Linked DNA regions of Homo sapiens. The protein of the gene in region 2 interacts with the protein of the main gene of each other region in a pairwise test. Each region holds a gene or a part of one and is shown on either strand. Other genes may lie near its edges.

What was found.
Region 1: the proteins of TSPAN2 (region 2) and RABGAP1L interact in a two-hybrid assay, tested with the Homo sapiens proteins (one large-scale study listed by BioGRID and IntAct).
Region 3: the proteins of TSPAN2 (region 2) and TSPAN31 interact in binary tests that used the Homo sapiens proteins (3 or more experiments, as listed by UniProt).

The regions. Positions count from the first base shown.
Region 1 is NC_000001.11:174,221,967-174,225,617, forward strand, and holds part of RABGAP1L (rab GTPase-activating protein 1-like), read left to right. Parts: intron 1-3,651. UniProt on the Homo sapiens protein: GTP-hydrolysis activating protein (GAP) for small GTPase RAB22A, converting active RAB22A-GTP to the inactive form RAB22A-GDP. Plays a role in endocytosis and intracellular protein transport.
Region 2 is NC_000001.11:115,079,446-115,083,096, reverse strand, and holds part of TSPAN2 (tetraspanin-2), read left to right. Parts: intron 1-3,651. UniProt on the Homo sapiens protein: May play a role in signalling in oligodendrocytes in the early stages of their terminal differentiation into myelin-forming glia and may also function in stabilizing the mature sheath.
Region 3 is NC_000012.12:57,743,535-57,747,850, forward strand, and holds the start of TSPAN31 (tetraspanin-31), read left to right. Parts: upstream 1-1,504; 5' UTR 1,505-1,620; coding exon 1,621-1,683; exon of another isoform or gene 1,684-1,697; intron 1,698-1,888; exon of another isoform or gene 1,889-1,905; intron 1,906-2,210; coding exon 2,211-2,378; intron 2,379-2,641; coding exon 2,642-2,722; intron 2,723-3,054; coding exon 3,055-3,186; intron 3,187-3,483; coding exon 3,484-3,597; intron 3,598-3,681; coding exon 3,682-3,756; 3' UTR 3,757-4,316.

The DNA.
Region 1 (3,651 bases), about 59 Mb from region 2:
CTGGGTGTGTACCACCATGCCTAGCTAATTTTTTTTTTTTTTTTGTAGTGATGGGGTTTTGCCATGTTGACCAGGCCGGTCTTGAATTCCTGGCTTCAGGTGATCTGCCCACCTCAGCCTCCCAAAGTGTCGGGTTTACCAGTGCAAGCCATTGCACCCATCCCTGGCCTGTTTTACGGATTAAATAAAAGTTCTGAGTTTTACTCTGATTGGACCAGTGAAACCATTTTCTAGTAGTGAGGGAAATGACATGAACTGATAGCTGTAGGCCTGGGTTACATTCAAACCTGTAAATAAGTCACTCTGACAGAGGGGATGGGATTATCCTAATTGGCTTAGGAAACTCGTGATTCATTTCTGAACCAAATGAACCTTGGTACAGGGTAAGTATAGGTATAGCCAAACTGTTACACAATAGGGCTGTGATGCATTTATGTAGGGAATGTAATCACAGTGCCTTCCATGGCAAGGATGATTAAGCATTAGAAAAATCTTTCAGTGTGGTTTACCACATAAAGTGGTGAAGAGTGAAAAAGTATCAGTAGATAAAGAACAAGCACTGGATAAAATTTAAAATTTTACATGTATATGCACATGTAAAGTTCTTGGAAAACTTAGAAGGAAACTTGCTTAATCAAATATCTATCAAAGTCTTATGTTTTATGCTGAAATTTAAAATGCGTTACCATCAAGATATATTGAAACAGGAGCAGTTAGGGCATGATAGCTATCACCATAGCTCTTTGACGTTGTACTAAAGAATCCAGCCAATGCAAGATGACAGGAAAAAGAAATGAAGTGTGATTAGAAAAAAAGTGAAAAAATTCTCATGATTGGTAAAGTATTTAAGAAAGTGAATGGATAAGCTATTAGATTTAAAGACTTTTTGCCAGGCATGGTGGCTCATGCCTGTAATCCCAGCAATTTGGGAGGGTGAGGCGGGCAGATCACTTGAAGTCAGGAGTTTGAGACCAGCCTGGCCAACATGGCAAAACCCCGTCTCTATTAAAAATACAAAAATGGCTGGGCGGGGTGGCTCAAGCCTGTAATCCCACCACTTTGGGAGGCCAAGATGGGCAGGTCACGAGATCAGGAGTTCCAGACCAGCCTGGCTAATATAGTGAAACCCCGTCTCTACTAAAAATACAAAAATTAACTGGGTGTGGCAGCACATGCCTGTAGTCCCAGCTACTCAGGAGGCTGAGGCGAGAGAATCGCTTGAACCTGGGAGGCAGAGGTTGCAGTGAGCCAAGACTGCACCATTGCACTCCAGCCTGCGTGACAGTGAGACTCTGTCTAAAAAAAAAAAAAAAAAAAAAAAAAAAAATTAGCTGGGCAGGGTGGTGAACACTTGAAATTCCAGCTGCTCAGGAGGCTGAGACAGAAAAGTCACTTGAACCCAGGAGGTGGAGGTTGCAATGAACTGAGATCATGCCACTGCACTCCAACCTGGGCAACAGAGTGAGACTCCATCTCAAAAAAAAAAAAAAAAAAAAGATTTAACGACTTTTAGGAAGGTTAGCACCAACAGTAGAAAATAAAATTGCCATTCATAATACCAACAAAAATAATAGGTAACAAGGAAGAAACAAAAATTTATGTAAAATTTTAATAAAATTATAAAATGTTATTGAAGGAAATGAACACCTGAATGAATGGGGAGAGATGCCATGTTGATTGATAGGAGTCAACCTTGAAAAGATGTAACTTATCTCCAAATTAGTCTGTAACTTGGGTGGGAATTTCAAATTTTCAGTTATTTTTATAAACATTCTGAAATGTATCTGGACAAGTAGAGGTACACAGGTAGCTAAGAAAATTTTTAAAAAGAATATTATGTATTAAGATAGACTACAGAGTTACAGTGATTAAACCAATGTGATATTGGCTTGTTATAGAAGTGAATCACTAGAACAGGGTACCAGAAACAAACCTATGTATATAAAGGATTTCAGTATATGACAGAATTCGCTTCACATACCACTGGGGGAAATGGTAACTATGCAGTAAATAGTGTTGGGACAGTTGCATCTTTGAGTGCAATAAAATAAAATTAGGTTCCTTAGTTGTACATAAAAATTATTTTTAGTGAATCAGATATTTAAAGTGAGAAATAAGCCTGTAAGAAGAAAACAATGGAGCATATTTTTGTGATTGTCAAGGTAGGAAAAGCCAAATCACAAAAGGAAAAGATAGTTGCATATCATTATAGAAAAATTTAAGTCTGGCCTGGGCATGGTGGCTCACACCTGTAATCCCAGCACTTTGGGAGGCCAAGGTGGGTGGATTACTTGAGGTCAGGAGTTCAAGACCAGCCTGGCCAACATGGTGACACCCGGTGTCTACTAAAATACAAAAATTAGCCGGGCATGGTGGTTCATGCCTGTAATCCCAGCTGAGAATCTGGGCAGGAGAATGGCTTGAACCCAGGAGGCGGAGGTTGCAGTGAGCCAAGATTACACCACTGCACTCCAGCCTAGGCAGCAGAGTGAGACTCCATCTCAAAAAAAAATTTTAAATCTGAGTGCAAAAGACCATTTAGGTTATCTATTTCTTCTTGAGTGTACTTTGGTGTTTTCATCTTTCAAGTAATTGGTTAATTTCACCTAAGTATGGGGATAGAGTTGTTTCTCTGTTATAGAGTAATATTCTCTTATTATCCTTTTAATGTCTGCAGGATGTGTATTAATATCCTCTCATTCCTGATATTGACATGTATTACATATACATACATTGAAAAACCTACCAGTCTAATAATTTTGCTTTCAACAGCCATACGTATATTTCCTTGAGCACTTTAAAAATGCTTTTCCAGTGTCTTCTTGTCTCCATTGTTTCTGATAACAAATCTGAAGGGATTTGAATCATTGTTCTCCTATTTGTAATATGTTATTTTTCTTTGCTTTCAGTACTTTTATTTCATTGTTTTCAGCAGTTTGATTATCTGTGTGTGGTTTTCTTTGAGTTTATCTTTTTTTTTTGGATCACTGAGATTCTTGAATCTGTAAATTTATATCTTTAACCAAATTTGGGAGTTTTCACCCATTATTTCTTGGTAATTGTTTTGTTTCTACACTAATCTCTTTCTTTTCTGGGACTCAGTAGACAAAAATGGTAGACATTTCCATACCGTTCTCACAATTCCTTAGGCTCTTTTCATTGTTTTCCCTGTGTTCAAGCTCACTGACTTTTTACTTTGTTAATCTCCATTCTGCTATTGAGATCGTCTGATGAATTTTTAATTTTAGATATTGTATTTTTCTGTTTTTAAATTTACATTGTTTTTTAAAGTTTTTTTGTTTCTCTGTGGATAGTTTTGATATTTTTATTCATTACAGGTGTTTTCACGTTTATTTTATGGATTATTTATGGAGCAACTGGGACATCTTGGGATTGGTCTGTGGATTATTTTTTCACTTGAGAATAGATCACCCTTTTATGTTTGTTGAGTAATTGGCTTGTTCCCAGAGTTTTCGAATCTTATGTTTTGAGACTATTTCTTGTTAAAATCCTCTGAAGAATGTTGACTTTTTTTTTTTTTTTTTTTTTAAAGCAGACATTCCACCTGGTTGTGTCCAAACTGCAAGATCTGTCTTGCTTTCTGGTTCCAAAGTATTTTCAATTCTCAAAACCTTTGCTGTGCTTCTTCAG
Region 2 (3,651 bases):
GCACATCTTACAGATGAATTAACTCGGGTTACCTTGGCCTGCCTTTTTCATCCTCTTTGAATTTGATTGGGAACAAAAATAACAATGCTTCAGTTTACGAAGTGCTTTCATATGCGTTATCCCACCTGATCATGAATCACAACAATCTCACGAAATAGTGTAATTATTCCCATTTTACAGTTGTGAAAGCTGAAAGTCAGGCACAGTAGGTGGTATGTCCCAGGTCTTCTGACTTTAAACCCCATGCTTTTTTCATTGTTTTAATTTATTGGAACGTGTAGAATATAAGGTATAAGAAATGCTGCTAACTTGGAAAATCTGAAGCCTGTGATCAGGGAGATTATATTCAGTGTCAGATTTAGTCTTGATGCATTCCAGAAACAGGTACAAAGAGATGCCTAAAAATACTAAGGCATATGGGAGAAGAAGCAGGAAGGAGAGAGGTTGGGAACACTGCTGATCAGTTTCAGGCAGAGGAAAAGTAACATGGAAATTGAGAAAGGGTATATATCAAGAGACAGTTTAAAAAGTTAATTTCAGGAGCAAAAACTTGAAGAATAGTAAGCACTATATAAATGTACACTATGTGCCAGCTGCTTTCCTAAGCATTTATTAACTAATTTAATCCTCACAACAACCCTATGAAATAGTAGCAGTTATCATCCCCAGTTTACATATGAGAAAACAGAGGTCTGAAGCATTGAAGAGACTTGAGAGCTGGCCAGTGGCAGAGCTGTGTCTCTATGTGTGTCCCCAGAGTCTGTACTCATAACCACTCCAAGTCTACAGACTATCGGAGAGGAAGGTTGAAGCTCTGACAAACTTGTGAATTCTAGACCTGCACTGTCCAATGCGGCGACTATGCTACTGATCACATGTAGCTATTTAAATTAATTAAAACTAAATAAAATGTAACCTTCATTTTCTCAGTCCCACTAGCTACATTTCAGAGCTCCATAGCCATAGGTGCCTAGTGGCCACAACGCTGGACAGCAGAGATATAGGACATTTACATCATTGGAGAAAGGTCTTCTTGACAGCCCTAGCCTAAATATAGTTATTCTTTCACTCATAAATATATCTATTCATATTTTTCTCTTATGGGGTCTTAAAAACATTAAAGAGAGGAGACATAGTTTCCACAAAAGGCTACTGACTTTCTAGTATAGAAGATTTAGAAAACCGAAAGGAATTCCAGCTGTCATGGAAAGAGGGAGTGTGGATCTAAAATAAAAATTAGTAGAGGACGGCTGCAGCAAACCACATTATTGGAACCATGGGAGCGATGTTTCCTATCTTGAAGATTAAGCTTTTGGTTTGAAGGTAACATTAGCAAGTCTACCAACATAATAGCACAAAGTGTGAGGCACTTACTGTTCTCAGTGTGTAACATGAACTCATTTAGTCTCTTTAGGAGGCACTATTATTACCTTCACTTTGCAGATGAGGAAGCTGGGGTTAGAGAGGTTAAGTGGCTTGCCCAAGATTATAGGACCAGTAAGTGCCAGAGTCTGATTCAAACCCAAATGCGTAGAACCCCCATTTTTATCCACTACAACTCCTTTACACCTACGTACCGTATGCACGCATGTGTTTATTACCCTAAGGGCATCATTATATATTCTGAACACCCAGAAGAGGTGAATTTCTAGAAGAACAGTTGGCAGATATTCCAGGATGTGTACCAAGCTCTGTCCTCCACATCGTAATGGTGATTGGGAAAGAGTCAGCTTATTAACAGGGGTGGCAGAGCAAGGCTGAGCAGGGCCAGGGGTGCATTGGAAGTTGCTGTCACTCATCCAGGAAGCCGACTTTGTCTCCCTGCTCCCGCCAGAGTCTATCTAGCCTTCTGTGAATGGACCAGTGCTGCACCTTCCTGACCTCAAACAGGTCCTGGTAAAATGGCTTTTAAGAAAAATCTCTATAGAGCACCAAGCTAGACTTTCACAATTTCTGCTAGATTCCACCCATGCTAACTTCTTAGTAAACAAATTGTTTTGGCTTTTCTAATCTAGCCTTAGTTCCATTTGAAACATTTTTTTAACCACTGTCATTCTGTAACAACTAAAACTGGATGAAGATCATTATTTATTGATCAATAATTAAGAATTGTTTATCTGCTCCAAAGTAGTTCTCCCAACCACTATAAATAAATATTGTTTAATGTGTTGTCTTTGCTTATGTAAAGCTCTATATAGATGAGATGTCACAGTAGTCATTGTGGCCTCCAAGATAAGTGATTATATATGCAGAGGGCAGGCCTAGGATGAGAGCCAGCTGGATGTTCCAAGGAGGAGGTCCGCTGAACCTAGAAAAGACCATTTTTTTCCTCTCCGGGCTTATCCCCTTGATGAGGTAAGTAAGGCAGACATTGAGTTCAGTTCACTTCTGTGACTTGGTAGACCAGATTTTAGTTCTGTACATATTTGATCTTCATTTGAGAAAGCCATCTGCTCCCTGGAATCCTTAGCCAGTAGTCTATGACATTTCATTTTGCTGTATAGTATAAAGAAGACTACATAGGCTGGGCATGGTGGCTCACACCTGTAATCCCAGCACTTTGGGAGGCTGAGGCAAGAGGATCACTTGTGCCCGGGAGTTCAAGACCAGTCTGGACAACAAAGTAAGGCCCCATCTCTACCAAAAAATAGAAAAAAATAGCTGGATGTGGTTGCACATGCTTGTAGTGGGAGGAGGAGGTGGGAGGATGGATTGAGCCTGGGAGGTCAAGACTGCAGTGAGCTGTGATCAGGCCACTGCACTCCAGCCTGGGCAACAGAGTAAGACCCTATCTCAAAAAAATAAAAAGCAAGAAAACTACACAGCCATCGTCTTTCTCCTAATTCTTGATGTTCCCTAATCTCCTTCTCCTTCTCCCTGTATTGTTAAGAGAAAAGACATTATGTATAATCACCAAATAAACAACACATTTTCCACTGTCTATATGTAAATTATCTGCTCTATCATTTGCAGCAAGCTTTTCATCCCAAGTTAGTTTCCTTCCCCTGAGCTTATATTTCTCCAGCACTTCTAAACTGCCCCCAGCAATGTTGGTTGACCCATGCAAGTTAACTTTATAACAATTTAAACAAACTGAAGGTGCATCTGGCACAAATGTATAGCCCAGTGTTCTTTGCAGAGATGAATGGAACACTCCTGATTTTATTGTGGCCTGAATTGCACCACCCTTCCATCACTGCAGAGAATTAAGCATTGGTCAATTATAAAATATACTCTTACCTGAAGGAAGTTTTTCTTACTGTGAGCTTTTTCTTAGGAAATGGCATGAGGAAAATAATGGGGAGATCAGAAACACTGGTACCTAAAGGAGCTGCCATGCATTTCCAGACTAACACAGCCTTCTCATCGCCACAGGCTGCCACAGTCCTGCCTCTCAGTTCCCACTCACCTGGTCCTGATGAAGGCCAAGGTAGTGAGGTCCTTCGGAGACCATTTGACATAGATGTCATATGGCATTCAATTCTTGTATTTTTTCTGATAAAACCCTTGATTTTGAAGAAATGCCATCTGAATCCTTGACTTGCTTTTACTGCATAACAGAATAAAAATCTTGGGAGCTGGTTTTCCTCTTTGAGAAAATTCAGATCATCTTCCAGAGCAAATGTGCTTCTGACTTTTGCCTGCTAAGAG
Region 3 (4,316 bases), on a different chromosome or scaffold from region 2:
AGCTACTCGGGAGGCTGAGCCAGGCAGGAGAATTGTTTGAACCCGGGAGGTGAAGGTTGCAGTGAACTGAGATCGCGCCACTACACTCCAGCCTGGGCGACAGAGGGAGACTCTGTCTCAAAATAATAATAATGATAATAACTTAATTACCTTGTTTCAAGACCCAAACACCTCTCTCGCCCTGTCAAACATCTATTCTCCTGCATACCTTTTTGGTATTAATTTCTGTAAGAGTTTATATAAATACTGTGTAGTTAAAGATAAGGGAATTGAGGTTGGAATTGCCCACAGGAACCTGTAAAATGACCTGAAAAGTAATAACTAACATTGAGTGTTTACTATATGCCAGGTACTGTTCTAAGTATTCTACATATATTAACTCATTTAATTCTTACAACCCAAGAGGTAGGGTGTGTTGTTATTTATCCCCATTTTACAGATGAGGAAACACGCACAGACAGTTTCTAAGTGCCTGGCCAAAGGTTACGCAGCTAGGAAGTGGCAATCTGACTGTGGCAGTAAGTCTATAGAATCTAAGTACACACAAACTTAAATCATTCTGTTGAGTTGATTGGAGGGTTTTCTTTTTTGTTCCTACTGTTTCTTTCTCCTGGGGAAGAGAAGGATTATGCCTTTCCCTACCCCCGTGAGAAGGACGGTTTGTCAAAGCACTTACTAGATAATAAAGTTGTTGATCAGCCTACCCCCAAGTGAAAAGGTGGAGGCTCCTTCCACTTATATTTATGTAAATGAGACTCTTCCTCTTGCCTGCCGTTTTTTTGCAAGCCCTAGATCAGGCGTGTACTCTGAAAATGCTGAGCACACCCCTCTGTGCACTTGTGGCAATGCCACATACAGGAATGCGCTGGCCTGAGGCCGCTATTTCCACACTGAATTTCTGGTATATTCACACCCCTTTAGGAGGAGATATGGAACAGGACATGGGTACTAGAGGACACACAAACGTGTGATGATTTGCTGGGTGTTGCTGTGTCCAACCCGCGGACTCTGCGGCCGGGCTAAATAAGCTCAATATGTGGCTCCTTTGGGTGTTCCCGAGCGTGACGCAATAACAAAACAATGGCGTCATCGTGAGGTCACTGCAGAACAGGGGGAAGGGGGTGGGGAAGGGCCCTCCTTCTACGGGCGGAGCCCTTTTTGCCCAGCTCTCAGAGCGGCCCCCTACCCGCCCCTCCCGCCGTCTCCCCTTCACCTAAGTTCCTCCAGAGCCGTCTCCCTGGGAATTAGCCCTCTCCTAACTCCGACCACAGAAAGCTCAGCTTTCAACCTAAGCTTTTGGAGTTTAGGCTGTAGTCCCTAAGAGAGTCTCTAGAAACCCTGCCCCTAGTTTTAAGTTTCGCCCAATGAAAAAACAAAAGGAGAGGGACAGAAGGCGGGTCGGTGACGTAATGCGGGTTGATTGGCATGCAGGCCTTGGACGTCCAGGATTAGCCACGCATTTCGCCAATCCAGAGGCAGGGGAGGGACGGTGCAGGCGCAGAGTATTGGGTTTGGCTGGCCTCGATTTAAAGAGACAGAAGCTGTCGGGGTCCTGGAAGACGGTCCCCAATACCCTCCCCCCAAGTCCTTGGGACCACTTGGGTCCCCAGAGCTGGGGAGATGGTTTGTGGCGGCTTTGCCTGCTCCAAGAATGCGCTTTGCGCTCTCAACGTGGTCTACATGGTGAGGTTTTGGAGGTGGGGGAAGCTTCAAGGCGGAAAGGCCCCGTGGGGAGAATCTCTAGGGTACTTCCGGTGGGGAGAGGGGTGTATGGGGGTTCCGGGAAGATTCCCAGGAACTTCCGGCGACGAGGGAATTCCTGGGGACTTCCGTGGGAGAGAGGAGACTTCCGGTTGATTAAGGGGGTTTGTCTGAGGGTGGGGGAATGAACTGAAGGCCGTGGGCGTAAGTTCCATACCTCCTTCCTGTGAACCTCAGTTTCTTCCAAACTGGAAGTGATAGGATGATCCTGAGGGTTCATCTTTTGCATTCATACTACCATCCCTGCCACCCCCTCCCCGCCATCCTAGCCATTCTAACCTTTGGGAGTGCCTAGGGATGCTCCCGGTGCGGATAGCACCATCCCCAGCTCCCATTCACACACTATTCCATTATTCCTTCCCCCTGCCCCGCTCCCAAGTCCTCTTGTATGGCCTTGGGCTGTGCCGCATGCTAGAATTGTTGAGATGTATCCTGCTCTTTCTTCGTAGCTGGTGAGCTTGTTGCTCATTGGAGTGGCTGCTTGGGGCAAGGGCCTGGGTCTGGTGTCCAGCATCCACATCATCGGCGGAGTCATTGCTGTGGGAGTCTTCCTTCTCCTTATTGCAGTGGCTGGACTGGTGGGTGCTGTCAACCACCACCAAGTCCTGCTGTTCTTTGTATCCTGACCTGAAGTGATGGGGGCAACCGGGGGCTTGGGAGGGCTGTCATCTAAGGAAGATGTTAGAAGGGTAGGGGACCTCAGGGATCTTGGACACGTCTCCTTGCCCTGCCCTGTCCCATAATCTACGAAACAAGAGCTGATTTTATTGCTTTCAATTTGACATGGTGGTGTAAGTTCTATGAACAGATGAGACCAGACAGTTATTATAGATGAAACATAAAGGAATCTAGGACTTTTTTCCATAACCTTTCCTCTCAGTACATGATCATCCTTGGTTTGGTCTTCATCTTCCAATTTGTAATCTCTTGCTCATGTCTGGCTATTAACCGAAGCAAACAGGTAAGACAGTACCCTTTCAAGTACTTACTTGCTTTTTAAAATTTTCCTCTTAACCTCGAACTCCTTCCTTAGTCTGGCCCCAACTACCCAAAGATCATCCTTAGGTGCACTGCTTCTGGCCTCTTGGGCTATTTGCTTCCTCTGGGATGTCTGGTTAATTTTCCATGAGGATGATCTAGAGAACCTCAAAAGGTAGATATTTATCGTGTCTATAATTGTTGCACACCGTTATGCTTCTGTTTGACTTCCTTTGCTGGGCTAGGGAAATTGAGGCACTTGAACTGATAACAGGATGTAGGGAGACTTAATTTCCCTCTACCCATATCTTTCAGACAGATGTCATCAATGCTTCTTGGTGGGTCATGAGCAACAAGACTCGGGATGAACTGGAAAGAAGTTTTGATTGTTGTGGCTTATTCAACCTCACAACCCTGTATCAACAAGATTATGATTTCTGCACTGCAGTGAGTGTGTTGGGGGTGGTGCAGCAGCCAGGGGAGGTAGGAAACTGGGTAAGGACAATGCCCAAGTTGGCAAATTTAGTTTGAATGTCATTGTTTCTCTCTCTACAAGCCCTCTTGTATTGGGGCTGTGTTGGTGGGAGGTGGGGGTGGATAGAGGCTGGGGAATTAGCCAAGTAGGATTTTAGTTTGTAGGACACTGGTCAGATAACAGTAAAGTTTCTAGGGACATTCGGCATAGGTATTAGTCACTAGCAACTTTACATTCACAACTTTGCATTCTTCACGTTTTATCCTCAGATCTGCAAGAGCCAGAGCCCCACATGCCAGATGTGTGGAGAAAAGTTTCTTAAGCATTCAGACGAAGCCCTGAAAATCCTAGGGGGTGTTGGACTCTTCTTTAGCTTTACAGAGGTAACATTCTCCAGTTCCCTCACACACATCCTTTTTGAGACTGAGAATTAATTGATACTTATCTCTCTCCCTTTGTTCCTACAGATCCTTGGTGTTTGGCTAGCAATGAGATTTCGGAATCAGAAGGATCCTAGAGCCAACCCCAGTGCCTTTCTATGAGACTTTGGATCCTTCTGACTTTTCTTCTGCTCTCTCTAAGCTTTCTCTTCCTCCCTTAGGGAATATCTAGGGTCTGTAACCGTTTTGGTTTGAGAAAAAGGAAAGGCCCCTTGTCACATCCTCTAAAATTGATGGAATAGCAAGACTTTATGCCTTGACATATTTTAGTGGGAGCCAGACTATAAGGAATAAAAGGAAAAACTTTCTTCCTCTCTCTCCAAGAGGATATGGGAAGCTTCTGTGAGTGCATAGGATGGGGGCTGGAGTCATTCTTAGCTGTTTCCCTTCCTCTGTCCATATACTGGATCACCTCAACATACCCTGGTGTGGCTCTAAGGGTAAATCAGGGATAGGGCCAAGGAGAAAACAACCAAGAACTCTTTCCTGTAATAAGCAGGATCCAGTTTGAGAAAGTTTAGCGAATATAAAAGTAAAAGCCATTTAAAAATCTATATTCTTTTTTTTTTTTTGACACAGAGTCTTGCTCTGTTGCCCAGGCTGGAGTGCAATGGCATGATCTCGGCTCACCGCAACCTCTGCCTCCCGGGTTCAAGCGATCC